Regions from separate parts of the Homo sapiens genome. Here region 2 is linked to region 1. Evidence: fine-mapped expression QTL. A gene starts in region 1. The other region holds a variant in brackets. All regions are shown on one strand. Distances are between the middles of the regions. Region 1 holds the start of TPD52 (tumor protein D52). Region 2 overlaps TPD52-MRPS28 (TPD52-MRPS28 readthrough).

Region 1 (8,694 bases):
TTTATTTCATATTCACAGTCAGTCTCTTACATGGATGGCTAAGAGAATACAATAAGATGGCTATTCAATTATCTTAAGCAAAAAAATGTTCATTACCTGACATTAAATCAATTTTTCTCCAAAACTTGTTCTTGATCTCTTGGGCCTCCTAACCTTCATCCCTTTGTTTACTACCATGATTCAAGCAGGAAGAGTCTATCTTTCTCCTGGATGATGATATAATTTTCAAAATTGTGGTATCATATGCCTTCATTTGTTTGAACAATCAGAGAGCCAGAACTACCCTTTGACATAGGTAGGGTAGTCAGATTTAGCAAATAGAAATATAAGACAACTTGCTAAGAATTTAAGATAAATAATAAATTTTAGTATAAGTATGTTGCAAATATTGTAGGGTATACTTTTTTGGGTTTTTTCTGAGATGAAGTCTTGCTCTGTCACTCAGGCTGGAGTACGGTGGTGCAATCTTGGCTCACTGCAACCTCCACCTCCCGAGTTCAAGTGATTCACCTGCCTCAGCCTCCTGAGGAGCTGGGATTATAAGCATGTGCCACCACACCCAACTAATTTTTTGTATTTTTAGTAGAGACAGGGGTTGATCACGCTGGCCAGGCTGGTCTCGAACTCCTGACCTCAAGTGATCCACCCACCTTGGCCTCCTAAAGTGCTGGGATTACAGGGGTGAGCCACCACTCCTGGCCAGGGATATACTTACACTAAAAAATTACTTGTCATTTATCTGAAATTCAAATTGAACTGGGTGTCCTTTTATCTTATCTGGCAGCAACCCTAGACCCAGGCTACCTGAAGCCCCTCCACTGGGCGCCCTGGGTCCCATAGAGACTTCCCACTTTTGTTCTCCTTGATGAGCAGTCCCTAGCATCAAATATCTACCCCCTCTTTATCAACGGTGCATCTGATACCTATAACTACAGAATCTCTTGCCTAAACTGGCCAACATCTGTTGTCAAGGCCTTCAGCTTTTCTCCCAGGACAGTCCTTTTGAGTGCAACCCTAGAATGGAGGTATGGCCAAGGCTCGGCTGATGGGAAAGGGTGGATAGAGATGGGATATGTCCTAAGGCATCCACGCACAAGGGAGTGGGCCAGCCTGGTGCAGGACAGAGTCAAAGTGAAAGGACAGAGCCAGAAGAGAAAGCCAGGGGCTCCATTTGTATCCTCGCCCCAGGCCCCACAAATATGAGGGGTAAGACTACAGAAAGCATCCCACTTGCCACACATTCTGTGTGATTTCTGCTGGCTATCGGTCAAGGAAGATACATACAACAAGGGCAGAGTATAGAGTTTTTCCACTTACATAAGTCGGTTTCTATCTATCCTTTTCAATACCTTCATTTGCTTCAATGCATTTGTTTCAGGGGAAGTTTACAATTTCTTGTAAAAATTTCACCAACAAATGAGTATTCTGAAAAAAGAAACTTAAAAAAAGAAACTTAAAAAAAATCCACGTTCCCATCAACAATAACACCACAAAGTAAATCTAGTGTTTCTTTCCTGTACTGAGCCTTTTAAATGTGGTTCAACTCAATGCACCCAGGTGCTCTGTTTAAGTGCTAGCCATTCTCCAGAGATTCCTCAGAGTGCTAAAACATAAGACCTGTTCATTTCAGAAGTAACACAGCATAAATTGTAAGCACAGATTCTGTCAGAAGAAAACAAATGAAGTAGTACGAAGACACAAGAGAAAAGCAGGCTTTTGTAGAAATACATGTAGTAGGAAGATGTAAGAGAAAAGCAGGCTTTTGTGGAAATATCATGTACTAGGATATTTATAGTATGAACAGTGCTCATTTAACCTCAAAGAGAAAATTAAGTTAATCTATCTCTAAGGCTCAGGATTGCATGTATCCACCTACGTGGGTGCATGCCAGAGTGCATTTTCTATATGGCGCATTCTATCAGTTGGGATTGCATTTGGCTCCATCTAACAGAAAGCCAACTACAGTGGCCTTACAAAGTCAGGCATTTATTTTTTTCCAGTAAGAAGCAGGTCTCTGATGCCATGGATTCTTGGGTTCTTTCTGCCGTCCTTGGCTTGTGAATTTCTTCCTCGTGTTTGCAAAATGGCTATTGCCCCTCTAAGCAGGAATGGGAAGGGTGAAGGGCCAAGTAATGCTGCCAAGTCTGTCTTCTTTTTAAATGCTTTCTTGGAGATTCCAATTAGTACAGTTTGCTCACATCTCATTGGACATTAATGAGAGAGACCCACCTCCAGCTGCAAGGCAGTTTGAAGTGCCCAGTGTTTCAGCTGGGCACATTGCCACTCCAAACAATATTTAGGTTATCTTAGGAAGGAAAACAGGAAGGCTGTTTATCAGGTAGGCTATTTGCCATCTCTGCTGCATGTGAACTACTCTATAAGCTCTTCAAAAGATAAGACTTTTTTTCCTTTCAGCATACATAACAAGTTCATCACTATATAGTAAGTTAAACAGATACAAACAATAAATATTTGTAACGGACACTCACGTTCAAGTGCTATTTATTTGTCCACAAATTAGTACATTGAGAGATTGTCTCTCCAGATGTTTATTTCTATACAATAGATCTCAGCATCAGCTAGTCAAAAATTCTTTACCACATACAGAATTTTCTGCTGATGCCAAAATTTACCTTTATGTTACATTAAAAATTTTTTAAAAAATATTGCACCTTTTTGGGCTCAAGCAATCCTCTTGCCTTAGCCTCCTGAGTAGCTGGGTTTACAGGCAAACACCACCATGCCTGGTTTAAAATTACAATATTTATTAATTGCATGGTAGAATTAAAGGATGCAGAGATGACCAAAATAATCTTTGCCCACCTGGAACTTTTTTTTTTTTTTTTGAGATGGAGTCTCACTCTGTTGCCCATGCTGGAGTGCAGTGGCGTGATCTCAGTTCACTGCAACCTCTGCCTCCCGGGTTCATGCCATTCTCCTGCCTCAGCCTGCCGAGTAGCTGGGACTACAGGCGCCCGCCACCACACCTGGCTAATTTTTGGTATTTTTAGTAGAGATGGGGTTTCACCGTGTTAGCCAGGATGGTCTCGATCTCCTGACCTCGTGATCCGCCCGCCTCGGCCTCCCAAAGTGCTGGGATTACAGGCGTGAGCCACCGCGCCCGACAATTTTTGTATTTTTAGTAGACACAAGGTTTCACCATGTTGGCCAGGCTGGTCTCAAACTCCTGACCTCAAGTGATCCACCCGCCTTGGCCTCCCGGAGTGCTGGGATTACAGGCGTGAGCCACCGTGCCAGGCCTGTTTTTTGATTTTTTTAATAGGCCATTTTAAGGACTTTACCACCTGGAGCTTGTAACCTAATAGGACTGTGAAACATACACTGGTAGCATCCTGGCACCAGTGCTGGGGTGAGTGCCACAGGAGAGGAGCCAAGTGCAGTCAGAGTAGAAGGACTCAAATAGAAGAGATCACATCTGGTTGAGTCAAACAGTAAACGTCCCCAGAAGACACTGGAAGATGCAGGCTGGAGAGAGCTACACTTTACATACAGCACGACAGTATAGAGATATTAATAGCATACAGTCACTTCAGGTAACTACAAGTAATTTTAAAACATCTGAATAAGTGCTTCTTTGTTGTCTGTGGAGTGCTACACAATGCTTCGGCCTAAACGTCAAGCAACACAGAAAAGAAGCCCCACTTCATTTGCAGCCTCAGATAGCTTACGAAATTGAGACACCACCTGAAGACCATGACCCATACAATCAAAGTGACTTCATGGAAGACGAGTAACTGCAAAACCCTGTGAAAACAGATTGTTAACGCTACTAATGAAAAGAACTGGATTGTTACGGGAACCTCAAACTGTCCTTTGATCAACGGACATGACGCCTCAACACGCATTTTCCAAAGATCTCTGCTGATAATTCTGACCTTCGGTTAATTTAATTAATTTCATTTGATTTAATTCATTTTAGTGTTGTCCTCAGTCCCGCACTCAAAACAGATTTTTATTATATGAAAATCTTCCTAGTCACCTAAAAAATCCGCATTCTATGGAAAAGACTATATAATTTTTCAAGAGATTCTTTGCAATTTTCACCTATGCTGGTTTATGACCTAGTTAGAGAAGACATCATAGGGCATTATTTAGGTAATAAAATACAGAGAGAAAAGAGCCACTGGCATTTCTAAATAACGTTCCTGTGTTTCCTACTGTAAGTATAGGAAAGTAGGTGTTCGCAGATGCAGAGAAAGGGCATCTCCAAGGCCTCGGAGGAAACTTTTGATTTTATAAATAACTTGATGGTGGAAGGCAAACGCCATCCCGGTTCCCAAGCAGGCTCCACGCAGCCTCCATGGCCGAGTCCATCTCCTCGCCGTCCTCTTCCCTCCTCCCGGCCGACTTCCAGCCGGTGCGGGAGTCGGGGTGCGCCCGGCCCTCCTAGCGCTGCGCCGCCCGCGCCGACGTGGCGGAGCGCACAGGTCGACCGGGTCAGGTGGTTGGGTGACGCCCCAGGAAAGCGCTCCAGGCCGAGGGCGGGCGGCGCCGCCGCGCCCGACGCCTCTGGGGGTGGGGACTTCGCGGGAGTCGCCGGCGGAGGCGAGGAGGAGCTCTGCGCGGCGCGGCGGGCGATCCGAGCCGGGACGGGCTGCAGGCGGGGGTGCTGCAGAGGACACGAGGCGGCGGGCTGGAGACATGGACCGCGGCGAGCAAGGTGAGGGCGCGGACCCAGCGGGCTTGGGCTCGGGCTTGGACTCGGGCTTGGACTCGGGCTTTGGCTCGGCGCGGGGCTGAGCGCGGCCCGGCGGCTCGAGCAGGTGCCGAGCCTCCTGGGCCGGCGCCGCAAGTTGCATCTCCCGGATCCGGATCTGGCATCCTGGGGCCCTGGAAGGAGCGGCTCTGGCGGGGGCAGATGGGACTGCATGTGTGAGTGTGAGTGTGCGTGTGTGGGGGAGAGGGAGAGAAGGTTCTGGGAGGTGGCGAAGGGGCTAGCGTCAGGGGCTGGCGGCCGTGATGCGCTTTGGGTGGAAAGCCGCGTGAAGGGAGCACGGCGCAGCCAGCTCCTGTAAGTGACTGGAACCAGGAACAGAGGACAGTGAGTCGCTCTCGTCCCTCCAGGTGGGAAACCCCTCTCTCCCTCATAAATTAAGACTTTCTGCCTTCTTCTAAGTTCAGGTGGTTAGGATTTTTGGTGGCGTATGACCCATGGGGGGTTTGGGAGGCAGATATTTATCATACTAGAAACCCCCAGATTGTGGAGTGGTGTCTGTGGGTTTGAGGGAAGAGAGCTTTTCGTAGGAAGGGTGAAATCCCACAACACAAAACCTTCAGTCTAATTTACCATAGCGTTGGGTGCACTTGCTTCTGAAAACAGCTCAAGTGAAATTACCCCCAAATAGAGCAATAGTAGGCCATGGTTTTCAGATTTAAATAGTTTCATCCTAGAGATCTCTGCTGATCATAAGCCTGTGACTGTACGCAGATGTGTGTGGCACGCTTTTAAAAAGATACATAAATGCTGAAAAAAGAAAACAAGGTAGGTAATCTTGGGAAGTGAGGATAGGAATCACTCCTGTTTTGAGCCCTGACACAAGTTTTCATGTATTGCTTATTTTCCTCCAGTATGTGCCGTCATGTGTGCATTTTTATGTAAATCAAACCATATTCCAAATATACTATCTTGTACTTTATTTTTTTCAGACTCTGGTGTTTTTTTTGTTTGTTTTTTTGAGTCTCCACCTGTAGCCCAGGCTGGAGTGCAGTGGCGGGATCTCAGCTCACTGCAACCTCTGCCTCCCTGGTTCAAGTGATTCTCCTGCCTCAGCCTCCCAAGTAGCTGGGATTACAGGTGTGCGCCACCACAGCCCGGCTAATTTTGTATTTTTAGTAGAGACAGAGGTTTCTCCATGTTGACCAGGCTGGTCTCCAAGTCCTGACCTCAGGTGATCCACCCGCCTCAGCCTCCCAAAGTGCTGGGATTACAGGTGTGAGCCACTGGGCCAGGCCTGTACTTTACTTTCATTTACTTGTAAGATAGACTCTTTGGAGTCTTTCAGCTCTTTCCTCGCTCCCCTTCAGATTAATTTCAGACTTAACACAAGTGCTTACAAACATTACATACAATATGCTTTATATGTGTTACCTATGTGTATATATATATTATACATTACCTGTATAACGTATATATACACATACATATTATTATCTAAATTTTAAGCTTCTTGAGGTTAGAAACATTTCATCTTTGGTTGTCCTGAGTGGGATAACATGATGACTTGTACATAGTAGACATGCAAATGTTTGAGTTAGAAAGCTTGTCACATGTCTTGTATATATTGTTAGCCGGCTTAGGGGCCACCATGTAAGTCAGCATTATGTCTGTCTGGCTTTCAATGGGGGCGACGCAGGACGGGGGAGACATGACGACAAACGTGCCCATGTGTATTTGTATACTAATCTGTTACACACTGTCGTTTGACATAATGATGTTTTTAGAATAACTATGTTTGGTACTTGTCAAAGTAAATTAAACGGCTGTGTTTTACTTACGTGAGTGGAGTAACTAGTTTTAGTAGTGTTTGTGTTCTAGCTTGGGTGGTAAGAATCAACAGTCATTGGTAGCACTGCAGTATTCCAACTTCTTGTGTAGTTTTTATAGGACTAGTTTAAGTGTCTAATTCTAAGACATATTTTTTTCAAATCTTTATCTTGTAAGATGAGTCTTTTCGTGTCTATAATTTTCCCATATGTTCTTTGGGTGAGGTGGAGGACTCTGCTCCGAATGAAAGAAGAGGCACTGCCTTGGGAGGGTCAGTTCATTTACTCCAAAGCTTTGCTGTGTTAGAACAACGTGGCCAAGGCTGGGTGCGGTGGCTCACACCTGTAATCCCAGCACTTTGGGAAGCTGAGGCAGGCAGATCACTTGAGGCCAGGAGTTTGACCCCTGTCCAACAAGGTGGAACCCTGTCTCTACTAAAAATACAAAAATTAGCTCGGCGCGGTGGCACCGGCCTGTAGTCCCAGCTATTCAGGAGGCTGAGGCAGGAGAATCACTAGAAACTGGGAGGCAGAGGTTGCAGTGAGCTTAGATCAAACCACTGCACTCCAGCCTGGGCGACAGAGCGAGACTCTATCTCAAAAAACAAACAAACACAAAACAAAACCACCTGGCCATTCCTTACTCTTGCTTCCACCTGCCTACCTGCCTTTTCATCTTTATGTTACCAGTGCACACAGTAGGTGCTTAGAAATATGTGTTGACTGCCTAAGATGAGTGAGGAAAGTGTCCAAGAGCAGGCCCCAGCCATAGTAACCTCTGTGTCCCTCCAAATCCATCTCTTGTTTCCCACTTTCTCCTGTTCTGTTTTCCCTGTCTATTCTCAAGAAGCAGAACTTAGCCAGAGAGTTGCTGATAAGGCAGTGCTGGGCTTGGAGGATAACTTTACATGGAAGATCTTAGAACTAGTAGAGTGGATGACTCAGTCTTAAGTGAATCTGGAGCAAGACTCCTGCCTTAAACTGGAAAAGGCACAACCTGGGATTTTAAACCTGGTGTTCACTAGCAAACTGTGTTGGCTGAAATAAGGTTTATCAAACTCTGTGATTGTCTCCTGAATTGTGATTTTGGCAACATACTTAAAACCAAAGCAGAAAATTTTAGGATTTGTTGAACTTTTAATAGTTTTTAATGTACATGGAGTTTTCTTATATTTGTCCCTTAAAAAATCCCTAATGAAACTCTAGTTGTAAAATTAAATGCCCTACCTCTTGTCTTACATGCATTTATCTATTGAAAATCCCTCTTCCAACCTTCTTATGTGAAGTTATCAAAAAATCTGTTCTTGCTACTGATTGTACTTAACAGAGCTGTAAATTTTTAAAATAAACACTGAGTTTTCCTTATGTTTTCAACCACGAGTATTCTAATGCTCTGTAGTATCAGGCCCAGATTCTGTTGTTTTTCTACTTTCTCTCATACCTAGGGCTTGAATACAATACTCTGCTTACAGTGAGAGTTCAGTGAACATCAAATGATTTAAAATACGTTAAATTGCATCATGCCTTTCAAGAGTTTCCAAGCATTAAGCTCAGCGCAGCACATTTACTGTGTGTGGTATTTCCTACTTTGATAGAGCAGTGTTGCTAACTAGAGCATACATTGTGTAGAAAACCCTCCTGACTACCTTTTATGGAGCTGAATAAATATGTATACTTGAGTGCTCTCATGTTAGTCATAACCTTTAGTTTAGCACTGTTATATAGAAGTGACAGTCACGTAGCCCACTACACATTATACTAGTTTGAATTTAAACAAAGCAAAACAACTTTATAATTTTAAGGGGAAGAGGAATGGTTCCTGAGGCCAAAAAACTAGAGAGGAAAGGCTTCAAAAAAAGAATAACACAATAATATGTCACTATCATTTTAACATTGTAATTGTGCCTTAGAAATAAATAACAGAAATGTGGGGTATCATTTATTTAAAAATAAAGCAAATGTAGAGAATAATGGATAATAATTTTGAGGGTCTACTCCCAAGTCTCTGGGTGTGACCCACCCCATCCAGGCTGTTAATTTATTTGGTCAACAGTTTCGTGATTTCCATATGGTGCTGATGTCTTTGTTAGCTCTTCTTCACTTCCTGCATTTATTTTTATGTGGCAGGCTGCCTAGTCCCTAGGGGAATAGCTGAGTGGTAGGAGGGGTTGTGATCTTTTAGCAAGATTT
Region 2 (8,694 bases), 76 kb after region 1:
TTCCCCAGAGGATTATCTTTCTAAATCAAATCCTCTTTATCAAGAATCTAAATTTAAAATTGCGTGTTTTGATAAACATGCAGGTTAAATGTTTAGAACACTACTTAGAGAAGATGCTGGGGCCCATGCCTGCCTTCTTAGAAATCCACAGAAAGGAACTAGGGCTGCCAGTATTTGTTGTATCATTGGGCCATAATAGGTTTGTCATCTTGATAGGCTGTTTTCACCAAATATTTGCCAAGAAAAGAGACTTTAAGAATTAAATGTAGGCCTTAAACTTGTTCTACTTCTGCATTCAATAGATATCTGTTTCTGTTTCATTTTAAAAAGATGTTAGACCAGCTGGGCGCGCTGGCTTACGCCTGTAATCCCAGCACTTTGGGAGGCTGAGGTGGGTGGATCACTTGAGGTCAGGTGTTCAAGACCAGCCTGGCCAACATGGTAAAACCCCGTCTCTACTAAAAATACAAAAATTAGCTGGGCGTGGTGTCACGCTCCTGTAGTCCCAGCTACTCAGGAGGCTGAGGCAGGAGAATCACTTGAACCTGGGAGGCGGAGGTTGCAGTGAGCCGAGATCACACCACTGCACTTCAGCCTGGGTGACAGAGCGAGACTTCATCTCAAAAAAAAAAAAAAAAAAAGATGTTAGACCACCATCCAGTTTTGTGAACCTCCCTCACCTGTGGTGGAAGGTTCTTTGCAGATGGTAATACCCTCCCATCATTTGCAGCATCTCTAGCTTGGCCAGATATTCAAAACATTGTGTTTTTTGTTTGTTTGTTTGTTTTTTCATAAATGCCAAGAATTTAGCTACAGTTGGTCAGGCGATTGTCTACTTTGCATTAATAATGGCATTTGATATTATAATAGGGCCGTTATTTCCTTTATTATGAGCTTAGCCTTTCCATTGGAACTGCTGGAATACCTTGGGAGATATTGTGGGTTTGATTCCAGACAGCCATAATTAAAGCAAATATAGCAATAAAGCGACTCACACACATTTTTTGGTTTCCCAGTGTATGTAAGAGTTATGTTTACACTATACTGTAGTCTTTTAAATGCACAATAGGCATTATGTCTAAAAAATTGTGTATATACCCTCGCCCCCAAAACAAAACAAAACAAAACAAAATTGTGCACTTACCTCAGTTTAAAAATACTTTATTGCCAAGAAATGCTAACGGTCAGTGAGTCTTCAGTGAGTCCTAATGTTTTTTGTTGCTGGAGGGTCTTGCCTCAATGAGAATGGCTGCTGACTGATCAGGGAGGTAGCTGCTGAAGGTTGAGCTGGCCGTGGCAATTGATGGGCTCTTCCTTTCACAAAAAAATTTCTCTGTAGCATACAATGCTGTTTGATAGCATTTTACCCACAGTAGAACTTCTTTCAAAACTGGAGTCAAAACTCTCAAACCCTGCTGCTGCTTTATCAACTAAGTTTATGTAATATTCTAAATTCTTTGTTGTTATTTCAACAGTGTTTACGGCATCTTCACCAGGAGTAGATTTCATCTTTGCTCATCTATAAGAAGCAACTCCTTATCCCTTCAAGTGTTATCATGAGATTGCAGCTATTCAATCACATATCCAGGCTCCACTTGTAATTCTGTAATAGTTCCCTTGCTATTTCTGCCACATCTGCAGTTATTTCCTCCACTGAAGTCTTAAGCCTCTCAGAGTAATCCATGAAGGCTGGAATCACCCTCTTCCAAACTCCTGTTATGCTATGTTTTAACCTCCTCCCATGAAACATGAACTTTCTTAATGGCATCTAGAATGGTGAATCCTTTCCAGAAGGTTTTTAATGTACTTTGCCCAGACCCACCCGAGCAATCTCTGGCAGATTGGCCACAGTAGCCTTACAAAATGGATTTCTTAAATAATAAGACTTGAAAATAGGAATTACTCATTGATCCATGGTATGCAGAATGTATGTTGTATTAGCAGGCATGAAAACAACATTCATCTCCTTGTACATCTCCATCGGAGCTCTTGATGACTAGGTGCATTGTAAATGAGCAGTAATATTTGGAAAAGAAATCTTTATCTGAGCAGTAGCTCTCAACAGTGGGCTGAAAATATTCAGTAAACCATATTATAAACAGATGGGCTGTCATCCAGGCGTTGTTATTCCATTTCTAGAGCACAGGCAGAGTAGATTTATTTAGCATCATTCTTAAGGGCTTTAGAACTTTTGAAATGATAATGAGCATTGGATTCAACTTAAGGTCACTGGCTACATTAGCTCCTAAGAAGAGAGTCAGCCTGTCCATTGAAGCATTGAAGCCAGGCATTGACTTCTCCTCTCTAACTTTGCAAGTTCTAGAGGGCATTTTCTTCCAATAAAAGGCTGTTTCATTTACATAGACAATCTGTTGTTTAGTGTAGCTACCGTTTTAGTTTGTTCTTGCATTGCTGTAAAGAGCTACCTGAGACTGGGTAATTTATAAAGAAAAGGTTTAATTGGCTCACAGTTTCACAGACCGTACAGGAAGTATGGCTGGGGAGGCCTCAGGAAACTTAGAATCATGGTGGAAGGCAAAGGGGAAGCAGGGACGTCTTAGATGGGTGGAACAGGAGGAAGAGAGCAAAGTGGGGAGGTGTTACACACTTTTAAACAATCAGATCTCTTGAGAACTCACTATTGTGAGAACAGCAAGGGAGAAATCTGCCCCTATGATCTAATCACCTCCCAGCAGGCCCCTCCTCCAACACTGGGGATTACAATTTGACATGAGATTTGGATGGGAACACAGATCTAAACCATATCAGCTACCTTCATAAATTATCTTAGCTAGATCTTTTGGATAGTTTGCTGCAGCTTCCCTATCAGCACTTGCTGCTTCACCTTATACATTTATGTTATGGAGATGGCTTCTTTCCTTAATCCTCATGAACCAACCTCTGCTAGCTTCAGACTTCTTCTGCAGCTTCCTCACCTTTCTTAGCCTTCATAGAATTGAAGAGAGGTAGGACCTTGCCCTGGATTAGGCTTTGGCTTGAGGGAGTGTTGAGCTGGTTTGAACTTCTATCCAGAGCATTCAAACTTTGTCCATATCAGCAATAAGGCTGTTTTTGCCCTCTTATCATTCATGTGTTCACTGGAGTAGCACTTGTAATTTCGAAGCTTCAAGAACTTTTTCTTTGCATTCAAAACCTGGCAGGTGCAGGCGGTCTGGTTTTTGGCCTACAGAGACTATTGACATGCCTTTCTCGCTAAGCTTAATCATTTCTAGCTTTTGATTTAAAGTGAAAGATGTGCTACTCTTCCTGTCATTTGAACACCTAGAGGCCATCGTAGGGACATTAATTGGCCTAATTTCCATATTGTTGTGTCTCATCAAATAGGGAGGCCTGAGGAGAGGGAGAGAGATGAGAGAATGGCCAGTTTGTGGAACAGTCAGAGCACAAACATTTATCGATTGAGTTTGCCATCCTGTATGGGTGTCGTTTGTGGCATCCCAAAACAATTACAATAGTAACATCAAAGGTCACTGATCACAGATGACCATAACAGATATAATAATAATGAAAAAGTTTGAAATAATGAGAGAATTAGCAAAATGTGATGCAGAGACACAAAGTGAGCATGTGCTGCTGGAATAATGGCACTAATAGATAGACTTTCTGGACACAGTGTTGCCATAAACCTTCAGTTTGTAAAAAACATACTGTGAAGTGCAATGAAGTGGAGTGCAGTAAAACAGGAGTATGCCTGTACATGTAAACATGCTTTCTTTGGTGCTACTTCAGATACTTAGGAAGCCTTGACCATAGTCCAAGCAGATGAGTTTTGGTGCTTGAGTATTTTACCCCAGGCAGACTAGGAGAAGTTTGTGTGTGTGTGTGTGTGTGTGTGTGTTTGTGTGTGTGTGTTTGATAGTCTTTATTTATTTTGAGACAAGTTCTTGCTCTTGTCACTCAGGCTGGAGTACATTGGCACAATCATGGCTCACTGCAGCCTTGACCACCTGGGCTTAAACAATCCTCCCACTTCAACCTCTTCAGCAGGTGGGACTGCAGGTGCACACCACCATGCCCAACTAATTTTTGTATTTTTCATAGAGACGGGTTTTTGTCATGTTACCCAGGCTGGCCTCAAATTCCTGAGCTCAAGCAATATGCCTGCTTTGGCCTCCCAAAGTGTTGGGCTTGGAGGCGTGAGCCACTGTGCCTGGCCGATAGTATGTATGTATGTATGTATGTAGAGATGGAGTCTCACTCTGTTGCCAGGCTGGAGTGCAGTGTCGCGATCTCAGCTCACTGAAACCTCCGCCTCCTGGGTTCAAGCGATTCTCCTGCCTCAGCCTCCTGAGTAGCTGGGACCACGGGCGCATGCCGCTACACTCAGCTAATTTTTGTATTTTTAGTGGAGACAGACGGAGTTTCACCATGTTGGCCAGGATGGTCTCGATCTTTTGACCTCATGATCCTCCCACCTTGGCCTCC[C/A]AAGTGCTTGGATTACAGGCATGAGCCACCGCACCCGGCCTAGTCTTTGTATTTTAGGGCAGTTTTGGGTTTACAGAAAATTGAACAAGTAGTGCAGAGTTCCTTCACGCCCCTAGTTTCCCTTATTATTAACACCTTAAATTCATATGGTACATTTGTTACATTTGGTTAATGCTGAGACATTATTATTAACTAAAGTCTGTAGTTTTTATTAGTGTTGTCCAGTTCAATGGATTTTGACAGATGCATAATATGTAGCCACCATTGCAGTATCATACAGAATACTTTCACTGCCCTAAAAATCACCAGCACCCCAACCTAGTCATTCCTGCTTGCCTCCCCCTCAGCCCTTGGTAACCATTGATCTTTTTACTGTCTCCATAATTTTGTCTTTTCCAGAATGTCACATAGTTGAGATCTTACAGTATTTTGGCTTTTCAGATTGGCTTTTGTCAATAATATGCATTTAAAGTTTCTTTGTGTTTTTTCACAGCTTGCTAGTTCATTTCTTTTTAGTGCTGAATAATATTCCACTGTCTGGATGTACCACAGTTTATTATCCATTCACCTACTGAATGACATCTTGGTGGTTTCTTGTTTTTGGTGATCATGAATAAAGCCACTATGACCATTCACTACAGGGTTTTGTGTGGTCATAAGTTTTCAGCTCATTTGGGTAAATACCTGGGAGTGCAATTGAAGGATCTGTGATATATTCTTGGTCCCAGCATCTCTCCTCCTGCTGACAATTACCCTCCTTATTGTGACAACCTAACCAGGCCTGCCTCTCCCAGGGCTTCCTCTTCTTCACTTAGAGCATTTTCTGAACAAGTCTGGACACAAAGGTCTTGCTTATATTTTCAGGAAAGAGTATTTAAAATACTTCTTAATCATGGTTCCAACTTATTTCAACTCTTATAATTAAGTGATCATTTTTTTTTTAAATTATGGTAGAATATGTGTATATAAGATATAATTTGTGATTTTAACCATTTTTAAGTATACAGTTCAGTTGTATTCATCATATTCACATCATTGTGTAACCATCACCACTATCTGTTTCCAAAACTCTTACCTGGGGATATGATCATTTTAAAAGAGGAATTTGAAGAAATACATCTGAAGCTATATTTGGCAATATGTTTCCATCAGTAACTCCCAAAATCTCAGTGGCTATTGGCAACAATCTTTATGTCTCCCTCATGTTATATATACATACATATATATATATATATATATATATATATATATATATATATATATATATATATATAAAATTTTCTTTTGTCTAGAACTTAGTCACATGGCCACATCTAACTGCAAAGGAGCCTGGGAGGTGTAGTCTAGCTACCTGCGTAAGAATAAGAACAAATTGGCTTGGCGATTTGTTAGCATTCCTGGCCATATTAAGTAAGATTATTAAATCATACACATTGTTAACTTGATCTTTCAGAGATGACATGACAGTAATTGTATGGTTTCATAGATCTGGCTGTGTTTCAGGAGAGCATTTTTCCATCCCATGCTCTCTTTCCATCTAAACGTTAATTATCTTATCCTTTTAACACTGAGAGAGCTTCCTGGAATAAATAAAATTATATGCCTATTTTGATAAATACCTGTTTGATAGCGATGTTTTATAAAACTCTGAGAAAAGTCAACAAGGAGCCTTCACAGTGATTAATACAGCAGTTATTATGGTCAGATGTTAAAAAAAATCTCATGTCTTCAGTCTTGTGCCAAAAGGCAAAGAAAGTTTTGAAGCTTTCCACACACTGATTTGGTTTCAAGATAATGGGCTACTATTGAGTTTACATGTAGCATTGGTCTTCTGCTATTGTCTTTATAAAGGAAAGTATGTGAAATTTGGAATTGGAAATGTCATTTCTTAACCAGAGTAGCAGGTTCAGATGGTGAAGCTATCACTTTTGGCACAGGACTCTTGTTTCTTAATAAAATTTAATGAAAAATTGACAAGATTTGTGCAGTGTATATTTTTTTTAATGGTTGACCCACTGAATGCATCTAATTAGCTTATTACAGTTTAAAAGCAAGTTTAACTGCCTAAATGTATGACTTGGTATTTTGATCTTGTTTGTTAGGTCTCAGCTTGCTGATGATAGAAGTTTGTGGTCCAATATTAATTTTAAATAAGTGCCTACTGTTCTCTAGAAACTCCCATTCCCTTAAGGAAAAGTGTTTCATATGAGCCTCTCATTGCCAGGAATAGCTGTGTAAGCATTGTGGAAGTTTTTTCCACATTAAAATGTAGTCCACCAGTTCATTTATTCCTTTTAGGGTTGTGACAGTCGCTTGTGTTTATGCACCCCTGTAGAGCTGTCTTTAAACTCATTCAGCAAATTGGAAACATTTAGCTTGGATGACACCTCTTTAATCTTCCAGTAATCTCACCATAGAGACCACTGTACTCTCAAATACATTGTTAATACTTTTAGTAAGAATGGCCTGCTTTCATTCTCTTATTACTGAGCCATTATTCTGGACTCTGTTTATTATTATTATTATTATTCCAGAGTCGAAATAATTATCCCGTTGAAAAGACCAAGCATGTGCACACCCTGTTGTGACACAGCCGGTTTTGTCCTATCTGAACTTGCCTGCTTTGTGAACTGTTAGGGTCTCAGAAAAACAAAAAACAAAATCTTTTATTTTTAACATTTAATTTTTTATAGTTTTTATATTTTTTAATTGAGACAAAATATATGTATATAATTTACCATCTGTACCATTTGAAATGTACACTTCCTTGGTAATAAATATATTCTTTATTCCCCCTTCCACCTTTATTCCATCCTTTATTCCTACCCCCACCCCTGCTCAACTCCTCCTCTTCCCAGCCTCTGGCAGTAATTTAAAGTGTGAGTGACAATCTCACCTCTTATAATTATGTGATCTTTTTTTTTTTTTAAATTGTGGTAGAATGTGTATAACACGGAATTTGTGATTTTACTCTCTCTTCACGAGATCTACAGTTTTTAGCTCCACTTGAGTGAGAACGTGTGACAGTTGTATTTCTGTTCCTAGCTTATTTCACTTAACATAATGACCTCTAGTTCCACCCATGTTGCTGCAAATGACAAGATTCATTTTTTTATGGCCAAGTAGTAATAAATTGTGTATATATACCACAATTTTCTTTATTCAACTATTAATGAATATAGGTTGATTCCATATCATTGCTATTGTGAATAGTGCTTCAATAAACGCGCACGTGCAAATATCCTTGACATCTGATTTCTTTACATTTGGGCAAATACCCAGTAGTAGGATTGCTGGATCTATTAATATGTTAATTCTGTTTTTAATTGTTTTGAGAAATCTCCATACTGTTTTTCACAGTGGCTGTGCTGGGAAGATGTGTCAGTGGGTGGGGGGAGGATAAAACGAGGTTAGTTAATGGTTACAAACATACCTTAGAAGGAATAAGTTCTAATGTTCGATAGCAGTGTAGGATGACCATAGTTAACAACAATGTATTGTAGATTTCAAAATAGCTAGAAAAGAGGACTTGGAATAATGCCAACACACAGAAATGACGAATACTCGAGGTGATAGATGCCCCAAACCCCTAATTTGATCATTACACAGTGTAAGCATGTGATAGAGTATCATATTTGTGCCCCCATATACATGTACACATATTTGTATCAATAAGAAATATATACAAAAAGCCAAACCTTTTTAGCTATAAAATCTGTCTCTTATGTTCAAATGTATATAGTTAGAAAGTGCTGGAGTCCTGTAACATCAGTATTCAGAGTTTACTCAAGCTTTCATCCTCAGGCAAACTTAGCAGCTGTTATCTAAAGCCAGACTTGCAGCATCAGAAATCACCTGGAGCTTGTCCAGAAAGCAAGAGTCTTGGGCTCCACCCCAGACTTTCTAACTCAGAATCTGTAGTTCCACAGGCTCCCCTGGTGGCTCTGGTATGTAATAAAGTTATTTGAGAAGCACTGGCTGGAGATCTTTTACCTGAGCCTGTAATCATGGAATCACCCATCAGTATGTGGAGTGACCATAACATTTCAACTCAAACTCTATTTCTAAAATGAAAAAATCTGTCTATTGTATCTAATTAAGTATATGACAAATATCAAGCTCTCTTTCCACTATTTTCTGGTGTTCTCATGATCTGACAATGACAGTGGCAGGACCATGTACTGAGATGACCGAAGTGAAAATAGTAATGCTCTTTTGTGTATTTTTTTTTTTTTTTTTTGAGATGGA

The links.
Region 2: its variant is fine-mapped to the expression of TPD52 in blood mononuclear cells (TOPMed, PIP 0.91).

The regions. Positions count from the first base shown.
Region 1 is chr8:80,167,412-80,176,105 of GRCh38, reverse strand. It overlaps TPD52 (tumor protein D52), which reads left to right and starts at 4,542. Exons shown (of 8, transcript NM_001025253.3): 1 at 4,542-4,681. The coding sequence starts at 4,663. TPD52-MRPS28 (TPD52-MRPS28 readthrough) reads left to right here and starts at 4,542. Exons shown (of 7, transcript NM_001387778.1): 1 at 4,542-4,681. The coding sequence starts at 4,663. RefSeq lists a silencer at 4,381-4,710.
Region 2 is chr8:80,091,457-80,100,150 of GRCh38, reverse strand. All of the region lies in intron 1 of TPD52-MRPS28 (TPD52-MRPS28 readthrough), which reads left to right. The region is part of intron 1 of TPD52 (tumor protein D52); the gene reads left to right. LOC105375918 (a long non-coding RNA gene) reads right to left here. Exons shown (of 3, transcript XR_007060978.1): 3 at 7,927-8,445. Among named protein-coding and RNA genes, the nearest start is that of MRPS28, 66 kb to the right of the region's middle. The variant C/A (reference allele first, on the strand shown) is at 4,447.